2 separate regions of the Homo sapiens genome follow, and region 2 is linked to region 1. Evidence: fine-mapped expression QTL. Tissue or cell type: whole blood. Region 1 holds a variant in brackets; the other region holds the start of a gene. All regions are shown on one strand. Distances are between the middles of the regions.

The links. PIP is the estimated chance that this variant, and not a neighbour inherited with it, causes the effect.
Region 2: ZNF286A starts here. The variant in region 1 is fine-mapped to the expression of ZNF286A in whole blood (TOPMed, PIP above 0.99). The same link has a PIP of 0.9 or more in hypothalamus, sigmoid colon and tibial nerve.

Annotation. Positions count from the first base shown.
Region 1 is chr17:15,726,163-15,728,924 of GRCh38, forward strand. All of the region lies in intron 6 of ZNF286A-TBC1D26 (ZNF286A-TBC1D26 readthrough (NMD candidate)), which reads left to right. Among named protein-coding and RNA genes, the nearest start is that of TBC1D26, 4.7 kb to the right of the region's middle. The variant T/C (reference allele first, on the strand shown) is at 1,125.
Region 2 is chr17:15,698,200-15,700,824 of GRCh38, forward strand. It overlaps ZNF286A (zinc finger protein 286A), which reads left to right and starts at 1,553. Exons shown (of 6, transcript NM_001130842.2): 1 at 1,553-1,578; 2 at 1,936-2,167. The coding sequence starts at 2,131. ZNF286A-TBC1D26 (ZNF286A-TBC1D26 readthrough (NMD candidate)) reads left to right here and starts at 1,553. Exons shown (of 23, transcript NR_171000.1): 1 at 1,553-1,578; 2 at 1,849-2,167. RefSeq lists enhancers at 1,250-1,861, 1,297-1,346, 1,357-1,676.

The DNA of each region.
Region 1 (2,762 bases):
AATGGATGCTAAATCTAAGGGGAAATTTTGATGAGGAACAGGATATTTGCATAGAATTGAAGTATCTTTTCCAGAGATTGCTTGTTATGATTAGCAATTGCAAGGCAAAAAATAATTATATAGTGGAAGAACTGGCAAAAACTTTGATTACATGATCAAAATTAATATGAGTAAGCAGCACATGGCCATTCTGTGCCTCAGATGTGATACCATGAGAAGGACACAGCATAATGTGTGTACTATTCTGGCTGGGAATGCATAATGGGAATCTAATCATGAGGAAATATTTGACAAACTCCAAAATGAGGACTATTAAAAGGACTGCATTCTTCAAAAATATTAATGTCACATAAGACAAGGAAAAGCTGAATAACTTCCAAATTAAAAGAGACTAAAGCATCATGACAACCAAATACAATACAGGATCTTTGACTAGGTCTTGTGTGAGAGAAAATCTCCTAAAGACATTATTGGTTCAATTTTTCAAAACTGGAATACAAGCAACAGAATAGATAAAAGTAATGTATTGATGTTAAATTTACTGCAGTTGATAACTGTATCATGGTTGTGTAAAGTATTAATAATATCCTCATTATTGAGAAATGCATATTGAAGTATTTAGAGGTAAAGAAGAGTAATGTATGAAATTGAAATGATTCAAGAAAAATTTGTGTATAGAAAGAGCAAATGATAAAACAAGCAGGATTAAACGTTAACTGTGTGTCAGTCTAAGAGGAACCTGGCTATCCTTTGTAATTCTATTGCAGTCTTTGTGTAAATTTCAGGTTACTTCCAAATTTAGAAAAAAATTAAGTGAACACATATATTGACCCAAAGTTAGACCCATTCTGTAACATGAAAATACAAGGCAAAAATATATATAATACAACTATGTTAAAAGACCCTTTTTTCTATCTTACCTAAAACTTAACATCTCCAATGATTATCCATTAATAAGCTCTTTTTATTTTATTTTATTTATTTTTTTTTTTTTGAGACGGAGTCTTGCTCTGTAGTCCAGGCTGGAGTGCAGTGGCACCATCTCGGCTCAGTGCAACCTCCAACTCCTGGGTTCAAGCGATTCTCCTGCCCCAGCCTCCCTAGTAGCTGCGATTACAGGCGCC[T/C]GCCACCACGCCCGGCTGATTTTTTGTATTTTTAGCAGAGACAGAGTTTCACCATGTTAGCCAGGATGGTCTCAATCTCCTGCCCTCGTGATCCGCCGGCCTCGGCCTCCCAAAGTGCTAGGATTATAGGCGTGAGCCACCGTGCCCGGCCTAATAAGCTCTTTGTTTTTTCCTTTTCTTTCTTTCTTTCTTTTTTTTTTTTTTTTTGAGACTGAGTCTGGCTCTGTCGCCCAGGCTGGAGTGCGATCTCCGCTCACTGCAAGCTCCGCCTCCCGGGCTCACGTCATTCTCCTGTCTCAGCCTCCTCTCCTGCCTCCTGTCTCAGCCTGTAGCTGGGTCTACAGGCGCCCGCCACCATGCCCGGCTAATTTTTTTTTGTAGTTTTTAGTAGAGATGGAGTTTCACCGTGTTTGCCACGATGGTCTCGATCTGACCTCGTGATCAGCCCGCCTCGGCCTCCCAAAATGCTGGGATTACAGGCGTGAGCCACCACGCCCAGCCAAGCTCTTTCTTAAAGAGAAGATATTTCCACCTTTAACTGACAAAATCCCAAAAATTTATGTCAAGAATTTATTTTTAAAAACTTCTCGAAGATCATTTAGAAAGATTGATAACCACATTGGAAAAAGTATAAAAAATTGCATAGACCCCTGAAAATATGATTATATACATTTTCTTTTTTTGTTGTTTTTTTGAGACGGAGTTTCGCTCTTGAAGCACAGGCTGGAGTGCAATGGCGCAATCTCGGCTCACTGCAACCTGCCTACCGGGTTCAAGCGATTCTCCTGCCTCAGCCTCCTGGGTAGCTGGGATTACAGGCGTACGCACCACCATGCGAGTTTCGCTCTTGTCCCCCGCGCTGGAGTGCAGTGGCACGTTCTTGGCTCACTGCAACATCTGCCTCCCGGTTTCCAGCAATTCTCCCACCTCAACCTCCCGAGTAGCTGGGATTACAGGCGCCTGCCACCATGGCGAGCTAATTTTTTTTTGTATTTTTAATAGAGACGGGGTTTCATCATGTTAGCCAGGCTGGTCTCGAACTCCGGACCTCAAGAGATCCGCCCACCTCGGCCTCCCAAAGTACTGGGATTACAAGCATGAGCCACCGTGCCCAGCCTGATTATATACATTTTCAATAAACATTTATGAAAGTGGTATCAGGCCTTTTAATAATCAGAAGACCAAAATAAATGAAAACGAAATAACATTATCCACTAACCAGAATATGTAAAAGGAAGACTGACAAAATCAGGTGTTGGAAAGGACATCTAATTAGAACTCTCAAACTTGTGGTTGGGTTATATATTAGTCAAAAAAATCTTTGGAATTAAAATTTAATTGATAAATTGTATGTATTTATGCTATACCACATTTTACATACACACACACACACACACATTGTAGAATAGCTAAATCTGTGTATATATATGTATAGCAACAGACAGACATTGTAGAATGGCTAAATCAAGCTACCTAGCATATCAGTTACCTCAGATACTTATCTTTTTTTTTTGTGGTGAGAACATTTAAAATCTGCTGTCTCAAAAATTTCAAGTATTACCACATTGTTATTAACTGTAGTCAACATGTTGTACAATAGAGCTCTTGAGCTTTTCCTCCTAGCTGACATTTTTAGTG
Region 2 (2,625 bases), 28 kb before region 1:
ACAATATGACCACATACTCAGTGGTCCAAAATAGCACATGTTTATTATCTCATAGTTTCTATGGGTGAGAGTCTGAGCACAGCTTAAGTGAGTCCTTTGCAGCCAGCTATCAAGATGTCAGGCAAGACAGGGTTCTCATGGGAAGACTCTACAAACAATGATTCACTTCCAAGCACACAGAGCTGTCCAAAGGGTTCAGCTCCTTGCAGGTTGTGGGACCAAGGGCCTTCGGTTCTTGCAGGCTATTGGCTGGAGGCCATCCTCAGTTCCTTGTCATATGGGCCTCCCCAACATCACCACCACTTCATCAAAGCCAGCAAGAGAGGAGTCTCCTAGCAAGACACACGTTAGACTTTTATGTCACCTTTATTGCACTGTATTGGTTAGAAGCAAGTCCCAGTCCATACACAAGAGGGGATTGCACAAAGGTGTAACTACCAGGTGGCTGAGATAATGGGAGTTACAAATCCCTTCTGGGAGCTGGAAATCATCTTTCCTTGAAGTTTCTAAAAGCCACTGAACGGTTTGAAGCACTAAAGTAATAGCATATTCTTGTTTTAGAAAGAGCACTAGCCAGAAAGTGTGGAGAACAGATTGGTGGTAGAGAAAACCTTAGTTAGGGAATCCAGTTACCAGGCTGCAACGGCAATCCTAGTGAAATGGTGGTGGCCCCAACTAAGGTAATGCTACTGAGAATAGAGAAAGATGGAAACAATTGAGTTATTTAAGATACAATGAATAGGACTTGGTGATAAATAGATGGTGAGATCAAAGAGTTAAGAATATTCAGGCTCTGGTTTGTGCAAATGAGTGAGTGGGCAGTAATGTCATTCACTGAGAAAAGGAGGGCAGTCTAGACACGAAGCTGGAGGTGGATGGGTTAGTCCTCTAACAGAATTGGAGAGACTGAATAACTCTCCCTTGAAAGAACCACCTTTTATGATATGTTTAAACTAATGCTTATGTCTGCAAAGAACCTATTGCTTAAATTTGTTACAACAGGTTCAATCTTTTCAACTCATTTTAAATACATGAATTTTAGGATTACAAGTAGTCTGTGGATACAGGAACATCTGACTGAGTGTACAAAGAGGGACCTGCTCTTCCTAAAAACATCCTTCGTATGTTTTGAAAGCAAAAGGATGAGTTCTGGGCGCACAAAATATGGATAAAAGCTATGTATTTTAACGTATCTTACACCGGAGTAATTTGGGTTGAACTCAGCAGCCCTAAGCACTGTGCCGCAGGAACTTGTGCAGACAAAGCGCGGGGACGGACCCTGACTCCGGTCCGCGTCTCCGCTGCTCCCTCCCTCCCTTGCTCTGAGGATTAGACACAGGAGATGCTGCCTCATACTCTCGCGAGACGGACGGAGCTCTTCGATCGTCCGATTCTCCCAGCCGCACCACGGGTGCTCCCACCTGCGGAGAACCGGAGTCTGGCGATGCCAAGGCGCTTCTGGGAATTGTAGTTCCGGGCGGGATGAGGGCAGCACGCCTGGCTCCGCTCCTTCTTACGCATGCGCGACTCCGAGCTGGCCAAAGAAGTTCGTCCCCTTTGTGAGGCCCGGGATGGGAGGTGAGTTGCTTGTGGTGATGTCGCTCGTCTCGGCTCGGCCTCGGCGGTGGTTCCCCGGGTCGTTCTGTGCCGAGTCGGGGCTAGAGTGCGCGTTTGTTAAAGGGGCCTCGAGGGCAGACCATGAGCCCTGTCCCTTCTCACTCTGGCCTGATCCTCTCCTCGGGGGACGCGGTTGTGCCACGGGCGGGGTGGTCGCGGGGTTCTGGGCCAGTGCCCCGAGCGCGGCAGAATTTGTCCAAACTCCTGATGCCCCAGCGTCACCTCTTCCAGGTGCCCGGTTCCCCCAGGGACAGCTTCAAGCGGTAGGGACAGACATCTGAGGACCCAGCCTCAGGGATGCTGTCCCCGGGCTTCCAGGCTCCAGCGCCGTAGGACTGAGGCAGACTCCACGGTGAGAAAGAGACCCGATCTAACCCAGGCCTTTCATCAGAGCCCAGGAGGGAAGGCAGGAAGTGGGACCACGAGGCCCGGGGGGCTTCTAACTCGTCTGGCCAGGGAGATCTGAATTGGGGTGAAGAGCAGAATCTCCAGAACAAGGAGGAGGTGGTGATCATGGAGACAGATTTGGCTGAAATGCCTGAGAAAGGAGGTGAGAATTGCGGACGTGTTGAACTTGTAGCGTGGAAGGACGAAATTCCTGCTCCTGAAGGGAAAACGGTTGGCTCAGGGGAGGTGGCTCTTGGCTGGCTGTCTCCATTGTCTTGGGGATGGATGGGCTTTTTAAGTGAGACTGAAGGGCTTGGTATGGGAGCACCGCCCTTTCCATGGCAGCTGGGCACACAGTGGACCCTTCAAAGCTACCCCCAAAATGTGAGTGAAATGTTAACTTCTATGGCAAGAATTCACCTCTTTGGTTGTCAAAAATGTTTTGTTTTACATAGGAGAAAACAGGCGTAGTAGTTAATGACTGACTTCCATTCTACCTGACCAGTTTCATGAAGGTTGTGCTGTGACCTCCTACACCAGAATTCCCCCTGGGGTGGTTGTTAGATTTCTGGATTGTACCCCAGGCTCAACTAATGCTTATTACTTTGAGGTGGGGTCCAG